3 linked regions of the Homo sapiens genome follow. The protein of the gene in region 1 purifies or fractionates together with the protein of each later gene. This does not show direct contact. Each region holds a gene or a part of one and is shown on either strand. Other genes may lie near its edges.

Evidence for each region.
Region 2: the proteins of ACADM (region 1) and ATP5F1C fractionate together in Homo sapiens (co-fractionation; one large-scale study listed by BioGRID). This does not show direct contact.
Region 3: the proteins of ACADM (region 1) and ALDH9A1 fractionate together in Homo sapiens (co-fractionation; one large-scale study listed by BioGRID). This does not show direct contact.

Annotation. Positions count from the first base shown.
Region 1 is NC_000001.11:75,738,103-75,741,835, forward strand, and holds part of ACADM (medium-chain specific acyl-CoA dehydrogenase, mitochondrial isoform a precursor), read left to right. Parts: intron 1-1,877; coding exon 1,878-2,008; intron 2,009-3,733. UniProt on the Homo sapiens protein: Medium-chain specific acyl-CoA dehydrogenase is one of the acyl-CoA dehydrogenases that catalyze the first step of mitochondrial fatty acid beta-oxidation, an aerobic process breaking down fatty acids into acetyl-CoA and allowing the production of energy from fats.
Region 2 is NC_000010.11:7,794,677-7,798,176, forward strand, and holds part of ATP5F1C (ATP synthase F(1) complex subunit gamma, mitochondrial isoform L (liver) precursor), read left to right. Parts: intron 1-1,444; coding exon 1,445-1,479; intron 1,480-2,370; coding exon 2,371-2,502; intron 2,503-3,500.
Region 3 is NC_000001.11:165,691,854-165,695,586, reverse strand, and holds part of ALDH9A1 (4-trimethylaminobutyraldehyde dehydrogenase isoform 1 precursor), read left to right. Parts: intron 1-189; coding exon 190-335; intron 336-3,733. UniProt on the Homo sapiens protein: Converts gamma-trimethylaminobutyraldehyde into gamma-butyrobetaine with high efficiency (in vitro). Can catalyze the irreversible oxidation of a broad range of aldehydes to the corresponding acids in an NAD-dependent reaction, but with low efficiency.

The sequences.
Region 1 (3,733 bases):
AGACAAGATTTCACTGTGTTAGCCAGGATGGTCTCTATCTCCTGACCTCATGATCTGCCCACCTTGGCCTCCCAATGTGCTGGAATTACAGGTGTGAGCCACCATGCCCAGCCAAGTATTGTTATTATTTTTTTTTTCTGAAATGGAGTCTCGCTCTGTTGCCTAGGCTGGAGTGCAGTGGCACCATCTCGGCTCACTGCAACCTCCACCTCCCAGGTTCAAGCAATTCTTCCTCAGCCTCCCAAGTAGCTGGGATTACAGGCGCCCGCCACCAAGCCTGGCTAAGTTTTTGTATTTTTAGTAGAGACAGGGTTTCACCATGTTGGCCAGGCTGGTCTCGAACTCCTAACCTCAGGTGACCCACCTGCCTCGGCCTCCCAAAGTGCTGGGATTACAAACCTGAAGCCTCAGCCACCACGCCCGGCCCTAAGTAATCATTTCTAGTGCCCCTATATATGCTTACTACTTTGAATTAAAATGTATATAGTTTCTTTCTTTTTTGTTGTATATTTTTAAAAAATAAATTGACATGGGTTCTCGGCATGTTGACCAGGCTGGTCTTGAACTCCTGGTCTCAAGCGATCCTCCCATCTCAGCCTCACAAAATGCTAGGATTACAGGTGGGGGGCCACCATGCTCGGCCCAGTTTCTTTCTTCTTTGGACTGTAAGTACCTTAAGGGCAAGTAACTTGTTTCTTTAGTATCCACAGTACCGGCCACTCTTGAATTAACTTGCACTAACACTTGCCTTCTACCACCCCCTTTTATCCATTACTGCTTGTGTCTTGTCACTCCTCTGTTTAAGAGCTCTAAGAGGCTCCCCTGTTTCTACCAGATAAAATTTTAAATTTGTAATGTGATATAAAAGATTCTCGTCGACCATTTCCTTCCTTTCTTTCCAGACTCATGTCTTACCATTCCCTTACATGCACAGAATTTACATACTGTGGAACTCTGGTACTTTCAGCATTAGAAACACTGGGTAACTCTGTTTCTTATCTTAGTGTCATAGCATATGCCATTACTTGTACCTGGAATGCATATTCTTCCTCTTTTTCCCTCCTCGCAAAGAAGCCATTTTCCTTTTTGAGACTTAATTTAAACATCCTCTGCCCTGGGAAACTAGTTTCTCAAGCCCCTTGTCTGACTTTCACACATAGAGTTGCAGTATAGTTATTTATCTTCACTGTTACATTGTGAAAATCTCTAGGACTGAATGTCTTTTACCTCTGGTTTCCCCATATCCTAATTTACATCGTGGTACATAGTAGATATTCAATACATGTTTGCATGAATGAATACATGTGAAATTGAATTTAATGAACTTGTTTAAAGCTATCTAACATTTTCACTTTTTATTAAATATATGATTTGTTGATATACCTATGCCTAATTTGAATTATATATTAAGTGTTTTTAGGCCAGGCACTGTGGCTCATACCTGTAGTCCCAGCACTTTGGGAGGCTGAGGCAGAGGATTGCCTGAGCCCAGGAGGTTGAGACCAGCCTAGGCAACACAGTGAGATGCCATGTCTACAAAAAATTTAAAATTAGCTGGGCATGGTGATGTGTGCTTGCAGTCTCAGCTATTATACACGGGAGGCTGAGGCGGGAGGATTTCCTGAGTCCAGGAAGCCAAGACTGCATTGAGCCTCTGCATTCCAGCCTGGGCAAGAGAGTGAGACCCTGTCTCTTACAAACAAAACAGAAAAGTTTTTACATTTGAGTGGTTTCTTTGATTTTGTAAGAACATTTTAATTTTAGATATTTAAAAATATTTAAAATACAGCTTAAAAAATAAAACAATCCTGTTTCCAAACAGTCAAAATTTAATCACTAACATTTAATTTCATTTCTCTTGTTTTTATATATTCAAGGCTTATTGTGTAACAGAACCTGGAGCAGGCTCTGATGTAGCTGGTATAAAGACCAAAGCAGAAAAGAAAGGAGATGAGTATATTATTAATGGTCAGAAGATGTGGATAACCAACGGAGGAAAAGCTAATTGGTATGTTGTTCAAAACATCTTTGTATATTTTTTCTTAATTGTTTTATCTTCAAATCTCTCTTTCTTTCTGTATATTTTTAAACCACTACAGTTAAGGTATGTTTGTGGAACTGGAAGGCCTAAAGGAGATTATAAACAGTTCAGTGATTTTCAAAAACTAATTTTAAGCCCCTGCACTGTTTTTTCAAATTAACTCTCAGAAGTTTAATGTGTAAAATAAAATACAAATGCGTGCTCTGTTTGAATCTGATTAGGAAGGCTAGCACTCTGTCTACTTGGCTTATTATCTCCACTCCTCATCTCCTATACCAGCCGCTCCTTGGAATCCCTAAAACCCTAAGGAAAAAGGAGAACCTTTGGTATAGTGCCTGTCTCCAGATGTCAGAAATAAACAGAGTCAGTCTTAAAACAGGTTATCTATTAGAGAAGACAGAATTTGACTTTAATAAAATCTGAAATTTTCTAATATATGGTCAAAAAATATGAAGTTCAACAAAGGATCAAAAATAATTTGTATAAATATAAAATACTAAAAAAAAACACTCGATTATTTGTTGATAAAAGATGAGGAAAGTTCAATAACTGTTAAGTTCAATAAGAATCAATAGTATGAGCCTTTAAAAAGCCAATGTAATTTTAAGCCAAAGTAATAGAAGTACAGCATCAAATAGAGAAAAAATGGTGACAGTTCTGGGCAACACATTTTAAAACATGTATTGAAAAACTTGACTAAATCTAGAAGCATGTAAGTATCTTGCATTAGGAGGAGCCTACAAAACATGTTCTGAAAAGCAAAGCCTTGGTTATTTTGGAAGAATCTTGAAGTTTTTCAAATATTATTACACAGAAAGATGATCAGGCTTATATGTTTACTTCAGGATGCCAGCTTAGAATTAATGAGTGAAAGTTAGAAAAATGTAGAATTTAGCTTAACATAAGGACAGGCTTTCTATCAGCAGTGCTGTTAAGTTGTCATGGGAAATACTGTATTTACCCATCACTACAAGTATATAGAGAGTTTCTAGAATAACTTTTTATTGATTGGAATAATGTACTAAATGACCTGTCTCTCTTTGTAAAAAATTCAGATTCAATATATTTGTGTGCCATATACTACAGTTTTCTAGCAAATAAAACATCATTTTTTTTCAGAGTGAGCCTACTAAAAAGTTACTTAGATTAAACATATCAGTCAATTCCTTATGAGCATCCTAAATATATTCAGTATTATGGAGTGCTATATCTTTACCTTTAACCAATTCCTGGTAATATCAGCAACTAATAAAAAGTGAAGAAACTATTAAAATTTAACAAGTTGAGAGAAATCTAACAATGCAGTTTGAAGTTTTCGTAATTTTAAAAACGGATTAGCCAGGTGCAATCACTCACGTCTACAATCCCAGCAGTTTTGGAGGCTGAGGCAGGAGGATTGCTTGAGCCCAGGGGTTCAAGACCAGCTTGGGCAACATAACGAGACCCCATCTTTACAAAATTAAAACAAAAAGAAAGAACTGATTACAACTGTTCACTGTTCATATAGTAAGGCAAATTAGGTAATATATGAAACCAGATAACAATTTTTACGATTTTGTTACTATTATTAAATAAAACTATAGAATGAGTGGTAATGTATTGGTTTTAACCAAAGAAAATAAGTTTGTGTTGTTTAGGGAAGAATATACCTTTTTAAAAGAATTTTTCGTGTACCAGGATATATAGAACATG
Region 2 (3,500 bases), on another chromosome or scaffold:
AGCTTTGCATACCTGGAGTAAATCCCACGTAGTGATGGTGTATAATTATTTTTAATACATTGTTGGATTTGATTTGCTAATACACTGTTGAGGATTTTTGCCTCTAACCTATGCTCATGAGAGATATTAGTCACTGTCCACCAAGGTCATTCAATTAGAGAAACCTTAGATCATTCTTACTGCTTTCCTTTCTACTACGAATGTACATGTGAAGAAGTTAAATGCTTGCAAATCTAGTCTCCTATTGCTTTGCCAGCATCTTCATCCAGGTTCTTGAGGTCTCTCCTGAGGCTGTGGCAGCCTACATCCCCATGTCTTCTGTGTTCATCAAAACTCCAACCTCATTTTACGCTTGTCACTGCCATGTGAGATACTTTGCTGAAATACTAAACTGATTTGTGGGCTTATAAACATTCATTTCCCTATTAACCTACAAATAAGATTTAAACCAATTTGCTTTTTTTGATATTTAAAAATATTAATTATTTAAAGTAACAAACCCAACTCATGTGTCCAGTTTCCCCTTCTCCATTTCTCACTCTTTCCTGATCATGAATGCTCTTAAAATGACATTCTGTTCCCGAGAATCCCCTCCTCACATCTCTACTTTGTGCACACATTTCATCATGCTCAGTTCTCCTGTGTAGCTTTGCCTGCAAACACAGGCACTTTGTATGGATTTGAAGGCAGAAAGATCATCTAATATTTTTTAGCATGTCTTCCCCCATTAGGCCAGGAATTCTCTCATATTCATCTTTCACCAACATTTCATTTAAGCCTAATCATTTTGACTTCTGCACATTAGCATTTCAATTTTAAAGACTTGAAAAAAAATACTAAATGTTATGTAAATGTAATTTTTTATGAACCTTGTTTACAAGGTAACAATATGTCAGAGACCATGTCGTGTTTACCAGTGCCTGGAATTTAGAGCATCTTGGTAAATGTTTATTGAGCTAAATTGAAAAAGTTAAGAATCAGTTTATATAAACTACTTTTACACGTGTAGTCATGTTCGACTATATCATTGACTCTGTTACTGGAAGAGGTTGCTGTGAACTAAGGAAATTTTTAGAGTGGCTGGCCTTGATTCGAAGTATAGTTGGGCAGCTTAACAAGGGGAGGGGCTTTTCTGTCATGGAAACAAGATAAGCAAAGATATGGAGGTGGGACTAGAGCATGTGTGAGTCAATAGAGCATGTTGACTTCTGGGAAGGTGGTGGTACAGACAGGCCAAATAAAAGGAGGCCTTCAATACAGGGATTTGCGCCACTACTAAGGGATTTAAATATATGTCTATTCATATACATTCTGAGTCCTGTATTTGATAGATTGTTTCTTTATGGGGTATTCTTTAAATAAATATATATTAACTGAAAGTTTTTCTTGTATAATGGAACTATTTTTCAAAAAACTGAAACATTTTTAAAACTTTTATCCTCAGGATTCAAGTTCGAAATATGGCAACTTTGAAAGATAGTAAGTATGTTGTTTGTCTCAATATGTGAATTGAGAAAAACTAAATTTTGACAAATACAAATACTTTCAAAAATATACTGCTTTAGCCCATTGTGTATTTGATCAAAACTGACCAAATGGATTTCCATTGTATGTTTGGGACATTGGACTTGTTCTGAAAAGACCAGTAAGAAAGGACACCTGAGACAGCTATGTTCTGTTGTTTGTAGAATGATCATGATATAACTAGAAAAAATTATACCAGTGTTGGTGTAGGTGGGTGTATGTGTGGGAAGGGGTAAATCATGTTATATATAAATAATGTTATGGAATATGTGGTTAAGGCAACTTTCAATACCATTTAATGTTTTAAATGTATATTATTGTCTTATGTTGCCATTTGCTTGTCCTAAGTAGTAGCTAGTTTTGCCTTCCTTTTATTAGTACTATTTCTATTTTTTTTTTTTGGAGATGGAGCCTCATTCTATCACCCAGGCTGGAGTGCAGTGGCGCCATCTCGGCTCACTGCAAGCTCCGCCTCCCGGGTTCACGCCGTTCTCCTGCCTCAGCCTCCCGAGTAGCTGGGACTACAGGCGCCCGCCACCACGCTCGGCTAATTTTTTGTATTTTTAGTGGAGACGGGGTTTCACCGTGTTAGCCAAGATGGTCTTGATCTCCTGACCTCGTGATCCGCCCACCTCAGCCTCCCAAAGTGCTGGGATTACAGGCGTGAGCCACCGTGCCCGGCTATTAGTACTAGTTCTAATATTAAGACTGGTTTAGCATCGTGCTGTTTATTGTTTATCTAAGCGCTCATTATTCTGCCTTGCACTTCAGAAAAATATGTCAATAAATTCACAAGGAAGTTATACTGTAATTCCTTTGTCTTAACACAGTACTTCTATTTTTCAGTCACCAGGAGACTAAAGTCCATCAAAAACATCCAGAAAATTACCAAGTCTATGAAAATGGTAGCGGCAGCAAAATATGCCCGAGCTGAGAGAGAGCTGAAACCAGCTCGAATATATGGATTGGGATCTTTAGGTAAGGGAAGAGTGTAATTCACAAATTAGGAAGAACTGTTTCACACAAGGAAGACTACTGATGACTTACATTTAGAGCTTACAGTGATGTCAAGCCTATCTGAGCACTTGCCATGTACTTATTTTTCATCTACATCCACTTGACACGTAATGATAACAACCCGTGTAGGTAGTACAGGTAGGGACTGTTAGAATCCCTGCTTTCCAGTGAGAAAAACTGAAGCACACAGAAGTTAAGTAACTTGCCTAAGATCACATATAAAAGGATGAAGAGCCTCTGTTTGGACCTATGTGGTTTGGTGTCGAGTCTGTGTATTTGTTAGCCATTATACGTGACCATGTTAACTTTTAAAATATTCTGAAATGTTCCCAGTTGTTAAGTATACCATCAGAAGAACTTGGAAACCGTGCGTTAGATGTAAGGGCTTAATTTCATCCTATGACCTTGTAGTGTGGCATTTTAGGACTGCAGCGGGGGCGGGTGAGGGGCAGTGCAGTGGAGAGCTGGCCTTGTGGTCATGGATATGACTCATGATGGTGTTTTGAGAATCCGAACGATGTTGAAGCAGGAAAAGCAGCTGAGAACCTCCATTTTCAAGATACTTAATCACCATTCTTATCTTTTCAAAAGCATGAAGACATTTTTCCTTCAGAAATTTATGTAATCCATCCTTAATTAGTCTTCTTAATGGAAAAGAGATGAGATATGACAGTTTAAAAAGAATTTATATTGTGTTTTTAGATGCTTTTATACTTGTTTGATTATGAATTCATCTTGGAAATAAAGTTGTAAAGAGCTGGAAATGGGAAAGAAGTTTCTATTTTAACTTGTAATTACATTCTTTCTCTTAACTTTTTTATGATCATGCTGTCTTATCCTGAGTTGAGGCTATCTAAAAGAATTTTTAACTTAAGGAAGATTTATGCATATTTGATAGTAAAGAAGATCATGCAGTGAACCCCCTATTTATCTACCAAATCCTCAGTATCTCAACTGAC
Region 3 (3,733 bases), about 90 Mb from region 1:
GAGGCAGAGGTTGCAGTGAGCCGAGATCGCGCCACTGCACTCCAGCCTGGGTGACAGAGCAAGACTCCATCTCAAGAAAAAAAAAAAAAAAAAAAAAAAGACTACTACTAAGAGAATATTGATAGATAATATTTTATTTAAATATGTGGCAACAATTTGAGTTAAAACTGATGTTTCCGCTCTTTATAGGCCGAGTGATAGCTACTTTCACATGTTCAGGAGAAAAGGAAGTAAATTTGGCTGTTCAAAATGCAAAGGCTGCTTTTAAAATATGGAGTCAAAAATCTGGCATGGAGCGTTGCCGAATCCTTTTGGAGGCTGCCAGGATAATAAGGGTATGTTCCAATTTATTTCCTTCCAGAACTCAGACATTGCTCTGAGGTTTCTTTGTGATGTTTGCAGTTCGACTTTGTTGCAACATTAGGCCGTAACGTTTTTATAAAATGGAAAAACATTTCCACATGCTCACCTTAGTATATAAAACAAGTTTTTGTTCAATACTTCCCATCTGGATGTTGGCTCTTGGACATCTCCTTTGGCAGGTTTTCATGTTTGTAAAGCTTTGTTTTGAATTATAATGCACTCTTTATAGCTCATCGTCCTTTTTTTATTTTTATTTTTTTTTTTTTTTGAGACGGAATCTTGCTCTGTCGCCCAGGCTGGAGTGCAGTGGAGTGATCTCGGCTCACTGCAACCTTCGCCTCCCGGGCTCAAGCAATTCTCCTGCCTCAGCTTCCCAAGTAGCTGGGACTACAGGTGTGTGCCACCATGCCTGGCTAATTTTTGTATTTTTCGTAGAGATGGATTTCACCATGTTGGCCAGGCTGGTCTTGAACTCCTGACCTCAAGTGATCCACCCACATCGGCCTCACAAAATGCTGGGATTACAGGCGTGAGCCACTGTGCCCAGCCTTTCTTTCTTTTTAAACCATGTGGTTTACTTGTTTCCTTTTTATTCTTTATTTTGATGATTCTCAAGTCTACCTTTCTTTTTCAGATTTGTTTTCAGATAGGGTTTTAAGTATCGTTACTTTAATTGGGAAGATTTCATAGATTTGTAGATGTTCCCTTTAAAAAAAAGAGAGTTAAACTTTTTTTTTACATCATAAATATATACAATTTTTATTTGTCAACTAAAAAAAATTGTAAAAACAAGTATTTAATACTCATCGCAAAACATAAAAAGCCTGCAATGCAAAGGGTTTCTGTGGTGTAGTAGTTACCACGCTGGCCTAACACACGGAAGGTCCTCTGTTTGAAACTTGACGGAAACAAAAGGTTTCTTTTGTTTCCCAGAATCTGACCAGGCTGCCTCTTCCTGGGAGTCCAGAGCTGCGAGGAACAAGTGATAATCCTGCCTCCTTTTTTTTTTTTTTTTATACTTAAGTTCTAGGGTACATGTACACAATGTGCAGGTTTGATACATAGGTATACAAGTGCCATGTTGGTTTGCTGCACCCATCAACTCACCATTTACATTAGGTATTTCTCCTAATGCTATCCCTCCCCCAGCCCCCCACCCCCTACGGCCCCGGTGTGTGATGTTCCCCACCCTGTGTCCAAGTGATCTCATTGTTCAATTCCCACCTATGAATGAGAACATGCAGTGTTTGGTTTTCTGTCCTTGTGATAGTTTGCTCAGAATGATGGTTTCCAGCTTCATCCATGTCCCTGCAAAGGACATGAACTCATCCTTTTTAATGGCTGCATAGTATTCCATGGTATATATGTGCCACATTTTCTTAATCCAGTCTATCATTGATGGGCATTTGGGTTGGTTCCAAGTCTTTGCTCTTGTGAATAGTGCTGCAATAAACATACGTGTGCATGTGTCTTTATAGTAGCATGATTTATAATCCTTTGAGTATATACCCAGTAATGGGATGGCTGGGTCAAATGGTATTTCTAGTTCTAGATATTTGAGGAATCGCCACACTGTCTTCCACAATGGTTGAACTAGTTTACAGTCCCACCAACAGTGTAAAAGTGTTCCTATTTCTCCACATCATCTCCAGCACCTGTTGTTTCCTGACTTTTTAATGATTGCCATTCTAACTGGTGTGAGATGGTATCTCATTGTGGGTTTGATTTGCATTTCTCTGATGGCCAGTGATGATGAGCATTTTTTCATGTGTCTTTTGGCTGCATAAATGTCTTTTTTTGAGAAGTGTCTGTTCATATCCTTTGCCCACTTGTTGATGGGGTTGTTTGTTTTTTCTTGTAAATTTGTTTAAGTTCATTGTAGATTCTGGATATTAACCCTCTGTCAGATGGGTAGATTACAAAAATTTTCTCCCATTCTGTAGGTTGCCTGTTCACTCTGATGGTAGTTTCTTTTGCTGTGCAGAAGCTCTTTAGTTTACTTAGATCCCATTTGTCTATTTTGGCTTTTGTTGCCATTGCTTTTGGTGTTTTAGTCATGAAGTCCTTGCCCATGCCTGTGTCCTGAATGGTATTGCCTAGGTTTTCTTCTAGGGTTTTTATGGTTTTAGGTCTAACATTTAAGTCTTTAATCCATCTTGAATTAATTTTTGTATAAGGTGTAAGGAAGGGATCCAGTTTCAGCTTTCTACATATGGCTAGCCAGTTTTCCCAGCACCATTTATTAAATAGGGAATCCTTTCCTCATTTCTTGTTTTTCTCAGGTTTGTCAAAGATCAGATGGTTGTAGATGTGTGGTATTATTTCTGAGGGCTCCGTTCTGTTCCATTGTTCTATATCTCTGTTTTGGTACCAGTACCATGCTGTTTTGGTTACTGTAGCCTTGTAGTATAGTTTGAAGTCAGGTAGCATGATGCCTCCAGCTGTGTTCTTTTGGCTTAGGATTGTCTTGGCAATGCAGGCTCTTTTTTGGTTCCATATGAACTTTAAAATAGTTTTTTCCAATTCTGTGAAGAAAGTCATTGGTAGCTTGATGGGGATGGCATTAAATCTATAAATTACCTTGGGCAGTATGGCCATTTTTGCGATATTGATTCTTCCTATCCATGAGCATGGAATGTTCTTTCATTTGTTTGTGTCCTCTTTTATTTCATTGAGCAGTGGTTTGTAGTTCTCCTTGAAGAGGTCCTTCACATCCCTTGTAAGTTGGATTCCTGGGTATTTTATTCTCTTTGAAGCAATTGTGAATGGGAGTTCACTCATGATTTGGCTCTGTGTTTGTCTGTTATTGGTGTATAGGAATGCTTGTGATTTTTGCACATTGATTTTGTATCTTGAGACTTTGCTGAAGTAGCTTATCACCTTAAGGAGATTTTGGGCTGAGACAATGGGGTTTTCTAAATATACAATCATGTCATCTGCAAACAGGGACAATTTGACTTCCTCCTAATTGAATACACTTTATTTTTTTCTCCTGCCTGATTGCCTTGGCCAGAACTTCCAACACTATGTTGAATAGGAGTGGTGAGAGAGGGCATTCATGTCTTGTGCCAGTTTTCAAAGGGAATGCTTCCAGTTTTTGCCCATTCAGTATGATATTGGCTGTGGGTTTGTCATAAATAGCTCTTATTATTTTGAGATATGTCCCATCAATACCTAGTATATTGAGAGTTTTTAGCATGAAGGGCTGTTGAAATTTGTCGAAGGCCTTTTCTGCGTCTGTTGAGATAGTCGTGGTTTTTGTCTTTGGTTCTGTTTATATGATGGATTACGTTTATTGATTTGTGTATGTTGAACCAGCCTTGCATCCCAGGGATGAAGCCAACTTGATCATGGTGGATAAGCTTTTTGA